Linked DNA regions of Homo sapiens: region 2 is linked to region 1. The links come from fine-mapping of genetic effects on gene expression. A gene starts in region 1. The other region holds a variant in brackets. All regions are shown on one strand. Distances are from middle to middle. Region 1 holds the start of LNX1-AS1 (LNX1 antisense RNA 1). Region 2 overlaps LNX1 (ligand of numb-protein X 1).

Evidence for each region.
Region 2: its variant is fine-mapped to the expression of LNX1-AS1 in testis (GTEx, PIP above 0.99).

Annotation. Positions count from the first base shown.
Region 1 is chr4:53,494,714-53,503,931 of GRCh38, reverse strand. LNX1-AS1 (LNX1 antisense RNA 1) reads right to left here and starts at 3,855. Exons shown (of 4, transcript NR_046622.1): 1 at 3,805-3,855; 2 at 3,430-3,515; 3 at 1,956-2,084. It overlaps LNX1 (ligand of numb-protein X 1), which reads left to right. Exons shown (of 11, transcript NM_001126328.3): 5 at 5,089-5,291; 6 at 7,538-7,909.
Region 2 is chr4:53,542,163-53,551,380 of GRCh38, reverse strand. All of the region lies in intron 2 of LNX1 (ligand of numb-protein X 1), which reads left to right. Among named protein-coding and RNA genes, the nearest start is that of LNX1, 45 kb to the left of the region's middle. The variant T/CT (reference allele first, on the strand shown) is at 3,463.

The DNA of each region.
Region 1 (9,218 bases):
GAACTCCTGACCGCAGGTCATCCGCCTGCCTCGGCCTCCCAAAGTGCTAGGATTACAGGTGTGAGCCACCGCACTCAGCCAACAGATTTTCAATGTAGATGATACAGCCTTATATTGGGAGAAGATGCCATCTAGGACTTTCTTAACTAGAGAGAAGTCAATGCCTGGCTTCAAAACTTCAAAGGACAGGCTGGCTCTCTTGTTCGGGGCTAATACAGCTGGTGATTTTAAGGTGGGGTCCAGTGCTCATTTATCATTTCAAAAATCCTAGGACCCTTAAGAATTATGCTAAATCTACTCTGCCTGTGCTTTCTCCATGGAACAACAAAGACTGGATGGCAGCACATCTTTTTACAGCATAGTTTACTCAATATTTTAAGCCCACTGTTGAGGCCTATTACTCAGAAAGAAAAGTTCCTTTCAAAATATTGCTACTCATTGATAATGCATCCTAGTTACCCAAGTACTTCGATGGAGACGCAAGAGTAATGATGTTTTCATGCCTGATAACACAATATCCATTCTGCAGCCCGTGGATCAAAGAGTAATTTCTACTTTTAAGTCTCATTATTTAAGAAATAAATTTCGAAAGGCTATAGCTGCCATACATAGTGATTCCTCTGATGGATCTGGGCAAGGAAAATTGAAAACCTTCTGGAAAGGATTCACCCTTCTACATGCCATTAAGAACATTAGTGATTCATGGGAGGAGGTCAAAATATCAACATTAACAGGAGTTTGGAGGAAGTTGATTTTAATTCTCAAGGATGACTTTGAGGGGTTCAAGACTTCAGTGGAGAAAAGTAACTATAGATGTGGTGGAAATAGCAAGAGAACTAGAATTAGAAGTGGAGCTTAAAGATATGACCAAATTCCGGGAGGCTGAGGCAGGAGAATGATGTGAACCTGGGAGGCGGAGCTTGCAGTGAGCCGAGATCGCACCACTGCACTCCAGCCTGGGCAACAGAGCAAGATTCCATCTAAAAAAAAAAAAAAAGATATGACCAAATTGTTGCAATCTCATAATAAAACTTGAATGAGTGTAGAGGCATTTCTTACGGATGAGCAAATAAAGTGGTTTCTTGAGATGGAAACTACTTCTGCTGAAGATGCTGTGAACATTGTTGAAACGACAACAAAGGATTGAGAATATTACATAAACATAGTTGATAAAACAGCAAGGTTAGTAGAGGATTGACTCTAATTTTGAAAGAAGTTCTACTGAAGTTTAAATGCTATCAAACAGCATTGCATTCTACAGAGAATCTGCATAAAAATCTTTCACGAGAGTCAGTTCATGTGGCAAACTTCATTGTTGTCTTATTTTAAGAAATTGCCAAGCCACTCCCAACCTTCAGCAACCACCACTGTGATCAGTCAGCAGCCATCAACATCAAGGCAAGACTCTCTACCAGCAAAAAGATTACAACAAGCTGAAGCCTCAGATGATCGTTAAACAGCATGTTTTAGCAATAAAGTATTTTTAAATTGAGATATGTACATTTTAAAAAACATGCTATTGTACACTTGATAGACTAGAGTACAGTGTAAACATAACTCTTATAACCACAGAGAAACCAAAAGACTCACTTTCTTATAGCAGTCTGGAACCAAACCCACAATATCTCAGAGGTATGCCTGTACTATGAAGAATGAAGTATAAATTAATGACCATAGCAGCCATAGGGGACAGTGTAATCCATGTGACTTGGATGGATGTTGGGATGCTGACTGTGTGTTGGAAAATGCATTCAAGTAGCTTAGCTCAATGCCAGCATATAGTAAACTCTCAGTTAATAATTATTATTATATCCTTTAGTCCTTGAGTGAGGACATAATATTGAACAAATCATTTTCTTTCCAGACCAATACAGAAGATGAGGTGAAGGTCAGATCATAGTGTGTCCTGATTATTATTTAGGAGTCTGTACTTGATTTGGGGGTAGTGAACACACCTGGGAGCTCTTGTATAGAGTTGTTGCAGGATTGGAGCCGTGTTTCCAGAAGACAGAGATAGCAGCCATGTTCAATGAGTAGGCGGGCTGGAGTGGGAGAGATTGGATTTCCTCAGACACACTAGGAAGCTGTAATTCCAGAATGGAGTGAGGTGTTAAGACTCAGCTAGCCTGGTATCAATGTCGTCACAGCATTTGTGAGGCAACAATGCTTTCAAAATGGCCAGAGGGCCTCATTGCTTCAGCAACCTACAGTTAGCTTCCTGGCATGGTTTATCCATCCTTTTAATGTCAGTAAAGGGACTGGCGCCACTGTTTATCAACTGTGTGACCCTGGCTGGGTTGCTTAATGCTCTAAGCTTCAGCATTTCTTCATCTGAAAAGACAGAGATGGGTCTGGGCATGGTGGCTTACACCGGTAATCCTAGCACTTGGAGGCCAAAGTGAGAGGATCTCTTGAGCCCAGGAGTTTGAGACCAGCCTGGGGAACATGGTGAGACTTTGTCTCTACAAAAAATGAAATTAGTGGGACATGGTGGCACACACCTGTACTCCCAGCTTCTTGGTCTGAGATGGGAGGATTGCCTGAGCCCATGAGGTCAAGGCTGCTTTGAGCCAAGATTGTACCACTATACTCCAGCCTGGGTGACAGAGTGAGATCCTGTCCCCCCACCCCCAAAAAAAAAAAAAAAAAAGATTATTATCATCTATTTCATAGGGTTATTGTGAAGACTAAACAAAAAAATGCATTCAAATACCTTAACTCAATGTCAGCATATAACAAACTCTCAGCTAATAAGATTATATCCTTTAGTCCTTGAGTAAGGACATAATATTGAGCAAATTTTTTACTTTCCAGACCAACACAAGTTTGGCAGTTTAAAAATTCCTTTATCTCTTTAAGGTCACTAGGATCTCATTGGTGTTGCTCTAACATCATTTACAAGTGTGAATGGTATGTCCTTTCAAGCTATCAAATCAAACATTCTCTAGCGGTTTAGGTTTGGCAGTGTGGTTTTTGTAAATCTGTTGGAAAAGATGGTAACAAGGGAAGGGGAATGAGGGAGGGAAAATTGGCTTTTGTGATTATTTCCAAATCTTTCTTTGCTCAGAATGAATTTTTTTCCATTCCCTTGTTATACCAGACATGTTCTAGCAATTGCCTGTGGTATAGCCTACTTAATATAACCAAAGTAGTTTAAACATTAATTGAACTCAATCACCCGAGTACTGTTAGTACCAGGAGCTGACTGCTGAAGCCAGCTTACCCCTGCCTTATGCAGTCACTTCAGTTCAATCAGTATAGAGATTAAGGACCCACATTTACAACATCTCGGGTTTCCTCTGCCCACTAAGTTACTTTGCCCTAACATACTTAGAAATAATTTTAATTCTTTATTGTTCTTAGAGAGTTGAGTACTTATTAATTCATTAGGGAAAATGGACTAAGGTCACGGGTTTTGAAAATGCTCACAAGGAACTAGAAGCAGGCCTGCCATGTGAGATCTTTCCAGATGCCATAACGAAAGGAGACTCTTAAGGTGAGGCAGCTGTCAGCACCTACGGAAGACAGAAGCATCTCAGCCCTTTACATTCAAACTTGAGCCTCTAGCTGCTTGGAGGAGCCCCTTTTTCCACCAAGCTAGGTGTGGCTTGTTCCCATCACTTGTTGGTGTCCCCTCTGAACACTTCTATTCAAACTGAAGTGAAAAAAAAAACAATGCCAGTCGGTGCTGCTGGCTCATAGGTCCATAGAGCAAGTCCCTCATGGGCTCTGGCCTGGCTGTGAACCCCTGGCTCCAGGGATACCTGACAGAGAGTACCGGTCACAAGAACTCTGGGTTCTGACCTGGCTCTCAGGACCACCTAACTTTGGGATGTCCAGTCAGTTACTTCACTCCCCTTCTCTCAGCCTTAAACCTCCTCACTTGTAGTGTTTGACTATCACTGTCAAGCAGCAGGACAATTAGAGCAGCTGTTTTCTGTGTGGTCACAATGGGATGAAAGATGAGAAGAGAGCTAGGAGAGATTTCTTGGGGAAAGCAGATTCATCAGTTTAAAAATACAGTTTGAAAACACCAGCCTAGATGATCTTTGAATCTCCTTGCTCTGAACTCAGTGATTTCAGGCAAACCAGGGATGAACTGCTCAAGGCCACCAACTAGGCCTTGGCCTCTTCTTGATCATGAATCAGGCCTCTTCCATTTGTTAACAACAATGTCTGGTAGAAAGAACTGATGTTCCCCCAAGCCTGAAAAGCAGAGTCTTTAAGGAAGAAATTTTCAAAATTATCTGAGAGGGCAAAGTGGCAAATTGGTTCTGTTTTTTACCTCTCAATAAGCAAGCGATAAAACTGCAATTCATTCCATTAAAAATGATTCATTCACTTCTATTAATTCAGTAAACTTCAGCTGAAGGCCTCTGCATGCAGAGATATATGCAGAGAACCATGGAACAGCGAGAGTTTATGCCCTCAGGTTTTATGGGCATGATATGAGGTATATAAGAAATGAGTATAAGCTGGGAGAGGTGACTCACACCTGTAATCCCAGCACTTTGGGAGGCCGAGGTGGGTGGATCACCTGGGCTCAGGATTTCAAGACCAGCCTGGACAACATGACAAAACTCCGTCTCCACAAAAAATGTAAAAATTTGCCAGGAATGGTGGCATGTGCCTGTAGTCTTAGCTACTTGGGAGGCTGAGGTGGGAAGATCACTTGAGCTCAGGAGGCGGAGGTTGTAGTGAGACACTGCATTCCAGCCTGGGCAACAGAGTAAGACCCTGTCTCAAAAAACAGAAACAAAAACAAAAAGGTAAAAATAACAATAATGGGTTGAGTGCCATGAGAAATAGCTAGAAAGCTTTATAGGAAGTGGGCTGTTTAGAGCAAGGGAAGGAGGAATCAGGGTAGAGTTTAATTGGAAGGGCCTTGAAGGAAAAATTGGGTTTAAGCTCAGGATGAAAAACATTCCAAGCAGAGAAACTTACATTGACACAGAGGCAGGAAAATGGAAAACATGTATGAGGAAAAATGAATAGTTTAGTTTGGCTGACACTGAAGTTTGGCAAGAAGAGTAGTTGGAAAGGTCCATTGGGTGGGTGTCTTAAATAAACACTCTTTGTCCATTTCAGTCTTTCCAAGGTTGTACCACCTGATTCCAGATGGTGAAATTACCAGCATCAAGATCAATCGAGTAGATCCCAGTGAAAGCCTCTCTATTAGGCTGGTGGGAGGTAGCGAAACCCCACTGGTCCATATCATTATCCAACACATTTATCGTGATGGGGTGATCGCCAGAGACGGCCGGCTACTGCCAGGAGACATCATTCTAAAGGTAGAGACTGTGGCTGTGGGGCTGCAGCAAGGGGCTTGATATAAAAAAATGCTTCTGAGCAAACAATTGGATAGATGGATGGATGAATGAGGGAAATGGTAAAATAAATGTGGATAGTGACTTTCTATCATTTTATGACTCTCTGAGATTTGTCATTTAATTGAGATCTTTGTTTCTCTCTGTCTTGCTCTTTCACTCTCTCCCCCCTTTCTCTCTGTATATAAATATTTATCTGTCTCTATATCATTTTGTCTGTCCACTCTTCTGCCTTCTCCCTTCTAGCTTTTTCAATCTTCCTCTTCATTCCCTTTCTCCACCTCCTCTTTCTCCTTTTATCTCTTTTTTTAAAGAGCATTAATATAAAATAAAACTGGGACATATATTTTCTTAAATTGTTTTTAGAGTAGATTAATAGAACATTTTGTATTTTATTTAATCACAATCATCTACTTTTTGAAAGTCAATTTCCTATAGTCTTACGGCCCTCCCTGAAAATAAAAGTAATCTCTATGCTAATTCCACCAACCCAGAGACATACCAGGGGAGACAGGTGTTGGAATAGAATGCTTTGGGTGTTACTGTCCTCAGAGGCTTGGTTAAGGAGAAGGAGGAATTTTCAGAACAGAAAGGATAAAAAGATCTGTTTACCAGGCAGAAGTCCAATGTTTGCCAAAAGTGCCAAGAAACCCCTCCCTGCTCGTATATTTTCTATCTGACACTCAGATAACAGTTCTATCCCATCCCTTCTAGGTTGCTGAGGGACCGGCTCCTGTCACATTATGAGCTGTTTCTTTGGCAAACTGATTGGAATAAGAGGAGAAATAACCTAAAGCAGTTTTCACAGAAATACTGAAATTCCTGCTGGCCTCCGAGGTGGAGCATAAGACAGGGCCCTCGGGGCAGGCCGCAGTACAATCAGCTACACTGTGCACTGCTGCCTCCCAGTTCTAGTGGAAACTATGCTGCCTGGCAGGGTTGCATAACAAAACATTTTGATTCTTGTGGCCTTCAACTGGAGCTTACAAACAAAAGGGCTGCCAGGACTATTTAGCAGGCAACCCTGACTCCCCTGACCTTCTCTGGGCCCAGAGGTGATGGGGGAACCCGGCCCTGCCACCTCAGGTGCTCTCCTCACCTGTGCTTGGACAAAGGTGGTGAGCTTTGCCTTTGCATGAGGGAGCCTCTGGAGCTGCACCAGAGAACAGGTGATTATATCCTCAAGAAAGGCCTTTGTAAAGCCCATTCCAAGCCTTCTCTAACAATTGGCTGCAAATACAAGAAATCTTATCAAACTACAGAAATTCAAGAAAGTTATTTCTCCTCCATGGGGCCTCTTTCCTCAAACACAGAGTGCAGCAATTGCTGCGAAATTGTTTTCTTCCAACATAGGGGGCTCTGGCTGGGCCTGTGTAGCCAGAGAAATTAAAACCAGAAAGCCCCATGCAGTATCAGCCCTACACATCATTAGTGAGGCACAAATGAGAGGGCCGAGCTTAAGCTTGTTTAAGTAGCTTTATAAAGAGATCTAGCCTTTCAATAAAAGAGCCTGGAAACTTCCTTTCATATCAGTTTGTCTGAAACTGTGCAAGGATTTCTTCCTTTTGCTGAGAACATGGGCAAAAAAACCTTGCAGGGGACCACCCTGAGACCTGACACATTCCCATCCGCACACACACAGTATCACACGCACATACACTCCATCGTGCTCACACACTCAGACCCTCACTCACACACTATCACATCTACATACACACACAGTGGTGAGGACTGGAAGTTCTGGTATGAGTTGACCCAGGGAGAAAAATTCAATTGGAGATTTTTGGGAAGAAAATGTCAACTCGGCTTGAAGAGCTGTTTAATGCAATCATTTGACTGAGGCAAATGGGAAAAATGCTTTTCTTTTGCCTTTTCCTACCTTATCTTCCTTCCCTCTCTTCCTGCCAGCTAAAAAATAATGACAACAGAAATGAAGGCTAGGATTCTGGGAATAAATATGTGGGCTTGGGTAAGAACAAGGTGGAGAAAGATGGTGTCTACTCACAGAGGCCTGGAGAGGTGCTGCAGGCCACGCTTGGAGAGAACAGGGTTAGAAACGCTGTTGGAAGGTGCGGTTATTGGACACAGGATGAGGTGGGAGAGCAGAGCAGTCTTTAAAGACAGGATCCTGGCTTTTCTGTGGGCCTGGATCTTTCAGGAAGGGTTGTGGCAGGTGGAGCTGACCGCACGATTGTTCCACCTGCCCCCAGGTCAACGGGATGGACATCAGCAATGTCCCTCACAACTACGCTGTGCGTCTCCTGCGGCAGCCCTGCCAGGTGCTGTGGCTGACTGTGATGCGTGAACAGAAGTTCCGCAGCAGGAACAATGGACAGGCCCCGGATGCCTACAGACCCCGAGATGACAGCTTTCATGTGATTCTCAACAAAAGTAGCCCCGAGGAGCAGCTTGGAATAAAACTGGTGCGCAAGGTGGATGAGCCTGGGGTTTTCATCTTCAATGTGCTGGATGGCGGTGTGGCATATCGACATGGTCAGCTTGAGGAGAATGACCGTGTGTTAGCCATCAATGGACATGATCTTCGATATGGCAGCCCAGAAAGTGCGGCTCATCTGATTCAGGTGAGTCAGAGGTCATTCCAGGATCCCAGTCAGAAACCCCGGACATGAGCAAGAATGCACATCCCCCTGAACCAGGCACCCTGTCACTACCACATGTGTCATGCAGTGCCTCCCTTTCAAGGAGTCAGGATGGAAAGACCAACATTTTCAAAGCTTCTGCCCAGGTAAGAACATTACTCGGCTGGGCGTGGTGGCCCATGCCTGTAATCCCAGCACTTTGGGAGGCCGAGGCAGGTGTATCACATGAGGTCAGGAGTTCAAGGCCAGCCTGGCCAACAGGGTGAAACCCCATCTCTACTAAAAATACAAAAAATTAGCCAGGTGTGGTGGCAGGTGCCTGTAATCCTAGCTACTCAAGAGGCTGAGGCAGGAGAATCACTTGAAACTGGGAGGCGGAGGTTGCAGTGAGCTGAGATCGTGCCACTGCACTCTAGCCTGAGCAATAGAGCAAGACCCATCTTAAAAAAAAAAAAAGCTATGCCATGCATTCTCCAGGGATCCTATGGACAGAGTAAGTCTTAGTCTCCATGGCTAAGTCCAGGTGACTTCGAAAGCACTTGGAAACCCAAGTATGAACCTGAGAGGAAGCCCCCTAAGAAGAGAGGGACGCAAATTCTTGATCACTCAGGCAAGTAGAGTTCATGACTGTTCAAACTAATCCACTTTTCTGACCAGTATAATGTCATCAAGCACCTGTATGTATTTTGTTGACTTCGTCAGGGTCACTGTTGAAATTTTTTTTTCTTTAGCTTTTTTATTTTAAGATAATTATCAATTAGTATGCAATTGTAACTCACCTTCGTATTTTGAGATAATTATCAATTAATATGTAATTGTAAGAAATAATACAGAGAGATCCCATGTCTCGTTACTGTTTTTCCTAGTGTTAACATCTTGCAAAACCATAGTATGGCATCACAAGCATGCTATTGACATTAACAGTCATAACAGAAGATTTCCATCACCACAAAGATCCCTATAAAAGTTGCCTTCTATTGCCACATCCATTTCCCTCCCCGCCCCACGTCCTCCTTAACCCTTGGAAATAACTAATCTGTTTTCTATTTCTATAATTTTGAATTTCAAGAATGTTATATAAATGAAATCATATACGGACTTGGGGGACTGGCTTTTTTCACCCGGTATAATGTTCTGATAGTTTTGTGTCTCAGCGACGTTTCATAAGCTGTGAGCTTTATTCTTGGAAGAATAGACTTTGTTCTGGGCTCTTATGTTCTAACCCATTCATTCACTTCATCCAGCAAATATCTGTTAAGTTCTGCTGCTTATGTACCCCTGGGTTAGATGC
Region 2 (9,218 bases), 47 kb before region 1:
GGGAAACTGCCTGGCCCTGGCTTCAACCAATGATTATTTTAGAGAGACAATTAACAACTGCCTGACCATCACCTGATGGTTGCCTGACATTCCTCATTGTGGGGAGGGTGGCCTTCCCTGCCTCATGTCTGTCTAACTACCTACTGTAACAGAAGGATGAGGCCTCGGGGAGAAACTGCCAAAAGCGGTAAGAGTTATGGGCAGCCTTATGTATGCCCTTCCTGCAAAATGTGGTAGGCCCCAGGAGTCAGAGCCACAGAACACACCAAGCTCTTAGAACCAAGGATTCCAACCACCAACCGCCTCCTAGGTTAACTGACTCTAACCTAACCTGCGACATACACCTCTGACAAACTGCACAGACTTCATGCAACAAGAACATTCATTTTGGGGCTCACAGGCCCAAAGAGAGCTTTAAATCAAACCCAGCTGGGCGTTCCAGGCTTTCAAGTGGGGAGGTTGCTTGCCTCCATTTTCTGTATCTATTTCCATCTATCCATTACGCCCTGGTCTGGCTTTTCAGTATCCCCTTCTCTAGGTGAAGGCTGTGTGGCAAGACCACCCTTAGTAGCTCCTTTTCCTGCCTACTAACTTCAGTCAGACCTGGGCCAGGTATTGGGCCATGAACTCCAGGACCTGGGGAAGTGCCTTTTTAAAAAAGCTTTATACTAATGGAGATCCACACAGGAAGGTCCAGATGATTATGGTTGGATTTTTTCTGGGGTGAATGAGTCGGGAGTGAGTGGAATACAGTGGATTGCCTTAGCATCCATTTCCTCCCCACTTCATTTTCACTGTGTTAGCCATTCCCAACACTTTCAAAGTTCAAACCAACAGGGTGAGCTTTATGGATTTGCCAGCAAATGTTTTCCAAATTGAGTCTCCAAGAATTTGTTTCTTTCTTATCAAAATTGAAAAGGGGAAAAAAAAGTGTTGCTGATCCCTGGATTTGTCTTGTCCTGTGTTTTGAGCATCTGAAGTAGAATTTGGACGAGGACCTGGAAGGAAGGAGGTAGAGTTTACAGAGGAAATGGGGTATGTTGGAGAAATCATATTCCAACAGGAACAAGATCCAGTCTTGGGGCAAAGCCAGGGCCCATTTGGGCTCAATGACTCTCGAAGCATTTCAGTTCAGCACATGTTTAACAGGGCATTTTTCCTTGAATTTTTAAACTTGTGTATTTTGAAGGAAATTGAAGCCGCATGGCCCTCATTCATTTACATTGAACTCACCAAAATCTTGTTTTGTAATGATTCTTTGATGTCCAAAGAGCATTGTGATCCTGTTTCATGATTTTATTTTTTCCCCCCTTTGAGAATTAGCAAATTCTTTTTTGCCAGCAGTAAAGCCACTCCAGTTCCAAGCTGTTCACTCCCTGGTCCAAAGTGTTCTCCTCCTAGGGAGGCCACCCTAAACAAAACCCAGCAGTTTCAAGATGCCACTCTGATGCTTGGCAAATTGTGCTTGTCTTTCTAGTTCCATGACTATGTCAGGCGGATAAGAGGCAAAGCTGGGATGTCCGTAAGAATCTCACTGACCGCTTCATGTTGGTTGACTTATTTTCTTCATTTTAACTTATAATGGAAAACTACAAACAATATAAAAGGAGAGAAAAGATTATAATAAAACTCCATGTGGCCTATACCCATCTTCAGCAATTGTGAATTCAAGGCCATCTTATCGATATCTCCTTTAACTGTTTTTGAAGCACATCTCAGATGATAATGTCATTTCATCTGCAAGAATTTCAGCACCTATCTCTAAAGATAGATTCTTAAGAAATGTGAGCACAATACTAATATCACACCAAAAACAACCATAATTCTTTAATAACAAATATCTAGTTTGTGTGAATCATGAGCTAAATACAATCTACACGTTGCAATTAGTTGCCACATCTCTTAAGTTTCTTTCAACCTCCTCCTCCTCTTCTCCGTTCTTCATTCTCCGCCGATACAAAGGAGCTCTTGAAGTAAATTCTGAGGAATATAGCTTTGGCAAATTCCAAATACTGGGCTAGTAACTGAAAAAGAGAAAAATAGAACAATGGTTTTAATTTACTGTCCAAGTTGAAAGAAATGTAAGAAAGCAAAGGTCCAAAACATTGAGCATTGAAGTCTATGAATGTAACTACAATTTTACCCAAGATGAGTGTCTTTTATGACCTTGTTGCCCAGAAGCTTTAAGGGGAGAACTTATTTTTTTTACTTTTATTTTAGATTTGGGGGGTACATGTCAAGGTTTGTTACATAGGTAAATACATGTCATGGGGGTTTGCACATATTATTTCATCACATAGGTATTAAACCCAGTACCCAATAGTTATCCTTTCTGTTCCTCTCCCTCCTCCTACCCTCCACCTTCAAGTAGACCCCAGTGTCGGTCATTTCCTTCTGTGTGTTCAGAAGTTCTTACCATTCAGCTCCCACTTAGATATGCAGCATTTGGTTTTCTGTTCCTGCATTAGTTTGCTAAGGATAGTAGCCTCCAGCTCCGTCCATGTTCCTGTGAAAGACATGATCTTGTTCTTTTTTATGGCTGCATAGTATTCCATGGTATATCTATACCACATTTTCATTACCCAGACTGTCATTGATGGGCATTTAGTTTGATTCCATATCTTTGCTATTGTGAATACTGCTGCAAAGAACATTTGCGTGCATATGTCTTTATAGTAGAATGAATTATATTCCTCTGGGTTTATACCCAGTAATGGGATTGCTGGGTGGGATGGTAGTTCTTCTTTTAGCTCTTTGAGGAATTGCCATACTGCTTTCCAGAATGGTTGATTTAATTTACACTCCTGCCAACAGTGTATAAGTATTCTAATGGGAGAACTTTAAGAGACTGGAGAAATATCTCCACAGGGCAATAATCTTGCAACTTCTTGATCACAGACCTATATCAATCAATAAATTTCTCCATTGCTTGTCTTATGTATAGTTATCTATATAAAATTATATACATATACTACTACATTAATACATCCATGATAAAACAGGCACAAAAACATTGTTAAAGAATAGAAAAAATATACCTAAGAGTTCTATGACAATCTGCCCACTTTCAGGGCTCATTGGTAAAACAACTTCTTCAAAGTAAATGGAGGAAAATTGCTCACTGCCAGTCTGTGGAGTTGGTCTTGGAAGGAATGGGGCAGGAAATGGTCTACTTCTGCAGGCCAAATAAAACTTGGCAGGCCAAGGAAGCAGACATCCTTTTCTCATAGTCATATTTCCCCCGACTTTTTTTTTTTTTCAACCATCACTCCTTCTGTGTGCTCATGTGGCCCCACGCCCTTCCAGCTTTCTCTGAGGCCCACCACCCCCAACCACACCTGCTTTCATTACCACCAAGATTGGAACTGGAGGATCCAGGTTTATGAAACTTGAAATGTTCAGAATTTGAGTCCTCTTTTTAAAAAGGAAGGTAAAATTGTGAATTCACAACTGGTAGGTCCC[T/CT]GTCAGGTTCTTGGAAAGGCACATGCATGCCAGGACCCCCGAACCATATTCATCAGCCTTACAGTCATCATCCCCCTCCATGGGAGCTCTGAGGTACCAAATTCACCTTCCTTTCTTTCTGACTCCTTCTTCTTATTCTCTCATATTTTCCTGTAAAGCCATCTCTGGGAATTCTGGTGCCCTTCTAAGCCCACTTCTCCCATGTTTAACTCTTGCATACCCAGAGCTGGAGCTGTCTTCCTGGTTGCCCCATGAGCCAAGAATGTACCTGTGAGCCCTTCCCGACTTTCTTCCTTTGTTAGCAGCTCTATCCAGAACAGTAGGGGAGGGAGAGGTCAGGGACCCCAGAAACAAGTCCACTTGTCATCCCAAGGACTGTAATCCAGTAGCTCTCTGCTGAAGGTGAGATGACCTAGTGATTCAAGGCACATGCTCTGCAGTCAGACTGACCCCAGTTCCTATATAGTCTCCTCTAGCTGGGCAAACTTGGGCAGGTTACTTACCTTCTCTGAGCTTTTCTCACCTATAAATGGGAATAACACTTACCTCACAGGCTGTTGTGAGATTATGTAAAGCATTTAATATAGTGCCTGGTACATAGGAAACCCTTAACTTGTGGATTTTATCATGAGTAATGGAGGGAGTTAGAATATATTTCATCAATTCTAAGACATACTTCTTAATGTCTCCTGTAAATAGATTCCATCTTAGAATTGATAACGCCATGCAAAGATAATTTGCAGTGTCTATCTTTCTTGGTTATCTGTAAAAATAATGGTGCGCCTCACAATAGACATAGTCTTCGATTTGATATAATTTGGTAACAACTAACTTTATCCACAGTAAGCACAGGTGGACTGAGATCAAGAAACTGGAGTTGCTGTAACCATACAGTCTCTTCCTCCCTCTCACTGAAGAGGCAGGGAAATGGCTGACTTGAGCTGAGAAAGGGGTAACTAGCTTAGGGGAAATTCCATGGAGAGAGGCCTGAGCTACTTGTCAGTGGCTGAGGCCTCGCCTTCCACACAGCTCTGCCTCCACAAGTGGCTCGGTCTTTACCACATCTGCCAGTCTCTTGACTCTGCCCCCGACTCCCTCCCCAGCCTTCATTCCTCAGCTATTTAGCTCCTTGCTGCCCTCACACTGCAGCTCCTCTTTCCTATTTTCCTCCTTCCCCAGTTTGAAGAGGAAGACTGAATCCAGCTTGTTGCTTGGCTGGTGGTGTCTGTGGCCCAGAACCATAAATTTTTGAGAGCCGAAGGAGAGCTTGGAGATGATTTAGTCTAATCCCCCTATTTTATAGATGAAGAAACTAAGGCCTAATAATTTACCCAAATGACTCAGCCCTGCCAGTAACAAGCTATGTGACCTTGAACAAGTTATGACATTTTTTTGGAAATAAGAGTAAAGCATTCATCGTTTTATGATATGTGTCCTGAGGAAGCAATAAAATTGGAGCTAGTGGTTAAAATTTTAAACTACCAGCTCTAGGCAAAGCAATGACATAGAGGTGACACAGTGTGGCAAGTGACCCTGCACAGCACCCATCATGAATGCAGCATCCTCTGATGGAGTCTGACCACCTGGGCCTGCTCAGAATGGTAACATGGGATTTCCTCGACCAATTTTGAACACGTGCAGCCTGGGTCCATTTGACAGCAATAAGGCTTTATGTCTGAATATGCTCTTCCAGGGATTTTTATCTAATTCTAAGAGTTTCATATACAAAGGATGGCAGCAGAGAGGCAGGGCAGAGTTCAGTCATGAAACATTAACAAGCTTTAGCTTGTATTGATTAAAAATGTGGCCTCTGGCCCAGTGCAGTGGCTCATGCCTGTAATCTCAGTACTTTGGGAGGCTGAGGTGGGTGGATCACTTGAGGTCAGGAGTTTGAGACCAGCCTGGCCAACATGGTGAAACCCTGTCTTTACTAAAAATACAAAAATTATCTGGGCATGGTGAGGTGCACTGTACTACCAGCTACTCAGGAGGTTGAGGCGGGAGAATTGCTTGAACCTGCGAGGCAGAGGTTGTAGTGAGCTGAGATAGCACCATTGTACTCCAGCCTGGGCGACAGAGTAAGACCCTGTCTCAAAAAAAAAAAAAAAAAAAAAAATGTGGCCTCTGAAGTCATTCAAATCTGAGTACAAATCCTGGCTCATCACTGACTAGCTGTGTAACTTCAGCTAAGCTTCAAGCCTCTCATCCTTAAATCAGGTTTTAATGATGGCACCTACCTCATGGGGGTAAGAATTAAATGCAATACACAGGAAGCATTAGATGCCTGGAACATTTTAAGTGCACTATAAACATCAGAGATGAGAAATTAATGGTGATGAGAAATAAATGATCTCCTAGGAACCTTGCAGCAAATGCAATGGCTCCCCATCTCACTGATGAGAAAACTCTGATTTATTGAGGCTGAGGAAACTTCCCTAGGTAATCCAGCCAGCCTGGAATGCAGGCATCCTGATTCCAGGACTGCATCGCTACTGTGTTGTCATGGAGATGGATTTGCTTGGATGTGTTAGGTTGTTTCACACCTTTATAATTCAGTAGGGCCAGGTTGGGGGGCTGAGATGGATTCTGAAACAGAAAAGTAATTGCTTTATAGATTCAACTTTTCTGGGTAATGATTGGGTAGTTTCTCTGGCCAGTTAAAATTATGCTGAAGATGGCAGTTCCTAGTTTGTATAACTATTTTCCCATTGAAGTAGGCATAAGAGAGCAGACTACAGGAGTTCTCAAAGTCATTCTTTAAAGTGATTAGTCAGAAATATTTTTGGCTGCATGAGCTAATTGATGAAAGATTACAAAGGATCAAAGGGATCTTATTGCAAACTCATCTGGAATAATCCTTCCCTCTTAGATGCTGGTGCAGTTTTTAATAGAAAAAAGCATCTGGGTACCACTCCCTCCACCTTCGTGCAATGCAAACTCTACATAGGTCTGAGGTGTCACTGGGGACGTGCTGGTCGAGTGCATTATGATCACAAGCGGGACTCCAGAGTTAGAGCCTGGCCCTGCCAATTGCTGGCTGTGTGTCTTTGGGCAATTGCCTTAACTTCTCTGTTATGATGTCATTGCATCAACCTCATGGAGCTACTGTGAGGACTGACAGACTATATCATGCACATGCAGCCCCAGTACAGTGCCTGGCGCATGGGCATTATTGATCAGTGTCAGCTACTTACGTGTCCATCTCTGCTACTGTACAAGCCAGCTTCCTTTCTTCGCCCCCTGCACACTTTTTTCTTTAGAAAAGATTCTCGCATGGTACTGGGCAGCAGTGCTGGTGTCTTACCACTCCAGGGTCTTCCCTGAAGTACCCACCTTTTGGCCTCCTTGGGTTCTACTCAGATAGCAGCTCAACCTCATCAGGAAACTAATTCCTTTAACATCACAAAAGAAATCAGCACCTCTCAGGCCGGACATGGTGGCTCACATCTGTAATCCCAGCACTTTGGGAGGCCGAAGGGGTGGATCACCTGAGTTCAGTAGTTTGAGACTAGCCTGGCCAACACAGTGAAACCCTGTCTTTACTAAAAATGCAGAAAATTAGCCAGGCATGGTGGCATGCGCCTGTAGTCCCAGCTACTCAGGAGGCTGAGGCACGAATATTGCCTGACCTGGAAGGCAGAGGCTGCAGTGAGCTGAGATGGCACCACTGCACTCCAGCCTGGGCAACAGAGTGAGACTGTCTCAAAAAAAAAAGAGAGAGAGAGAGAGAAATCAGCACCTCTCAGGTGCTTACTAATTTCTATGTACTGCTCTCAAACACCTAGATAGTCTATTTCAGAGAATTTAAAAGCCCAATGACAGCTAGGCAGGTGTGGTGTCTAGGGTTCAAAAATAGGACAGTGAAGGTGAAGAAGACTAAGATAAAGTGTTTGTTCCATGTAACTCAGGTGTTGTTTCTTCAGTTACAAAAGACCCAGAGATGAGGTCAATGTGTGTTTGGTTTTTTCTGTTTGTTTACTGTGGTGGTGTTTTTATTGTTTTGTTTTTTTGTTTGTTTTTGTTTTTTAATCCCCCATTCAGTTGCTTAGTGTCATCTAAAGAAAGCATCATGGAGATTTGTTTTTTCTTTCCCAGTTTCTTTGGACATAAGCTGCTCTCTTCTTTCTTGGCATGGTTGACAGGGTTGAATTGAGGCATATGGATCTCAAAGGAGCCCAGTGATGTGATCCTCCTTCAAATTCTTAACATTTGTTTACCATTTAGCAAAGGCAGGGAATTTCTATTAATAAAAATAGTGGTTTACAGAAACAGATTTTCCTTGTCCAGTGAAAGTAAATTAATGTTCTGAAAAAAAAAATTGAGCAAGATATTTCCTACTTCTTGGAAGTTCTCTGTTCAGCGTTTTCTTTGTATAGTGTGATTTTTTTTTCTTCTTTTCCAAGCTAGGTAGCCTCCTGGTAGATGAATTAAGAGTTTACACTTAGGTAGCATAAAGAAAACATTCATTCCTGGGAAGAGTATAATTTAATAACAAATACTTATCAAATGTGTATGACATATCAGGCATGTTCTAGGCTGTGGGGATTCTGCAGTAAACTTATATTCCAGTGAGAGGGCAGTAAATAAGCACACATGTAGTACATCAGATGGAAATAAGTGGCATGAAATAAATAAAGCAGGTAAGGAGATGCTGTTCTACATAAGCAGGCCTTGCCAAGAAAGCAGCAGAACCCAGAAAGAAGTGAGGAAGGGAGCCAGCCATGAGGGCAACTGACCTTCGGATAACAGTAGCACACAGGACAGACGTGGTGGCTCGTTTCTGTAATTATAACACTTCGGGAGGCTGAGGCAGGAGAATTGTTTGAGCTCAGGAGTTTGAGACAAGCCTGAGCAACATAGTGAGACCCTCATCTCTATTTAAAAACAAAAGTAGCAGACAGGACAATCTGACTCCAAATCCACACCTATGAAGTGCTAATGATTCCTACAGCACAGGATTCCTGAGTAGCAAGTGAGAACCACGTTAGAGGAGCTGGCACCTGGGTGGGCTCATGACCATCAGTTCCCTCTACTTCCACTTGCTTTCCCCCTGATTTATTCCTGATGGGAGAGGGGGGTTCTTACCGGGTTAAACATCACTCTGGGTCACGTGTTCCGAATACAGATTTAAATGCAATTGCAAATGCCAATGGCCTTCTCCACCTTGACCCCTATTCTTACTCAGTGTAAATTAATGTTGAATTTTCTCATTCCGAAATTGTGTTGCCTTCTAAATTACTCCAGTCTGTTCATGTCTTTGTCATGGATTTTCTCTAATTGCAGATGTACCCATGTCTAACCTATTTTTTCCCTCCTCTTGCCTCTGTCCTCTATGGCATTCCCCACCTCAGTGTCATCCATAAATTTTGTGACACTTGCTCCTAGGTCATCAGTCAGAGTATTGATTCAGATCAATGTGATGGTGATTGTTAGGACACTCTTTGAAACACCTTCCCATGGCTGGGCTTAATGCCCCCTTAGTTTGTGATTTCTGATCATTTTCAGCTTTCTTTGGACTAACAGTGAATATAAAATCCCAAGACACTGCGCATTCAGCTCAATCCACCCCCTACCCCATCCCTTTGTATTCTTAATTACAACAACAGTATTACAATCTTTAAGATAATCTCATGAATTTGTCTGTGATCATTTAAATGCAAACTGTCCTTTGTTTATTTATCCCTGGTTTTCTGGAAACTCAATTTTACTTTCCTAATAGTTATTCCCAATTTTTCAAGCTGACAATTGCATATCTC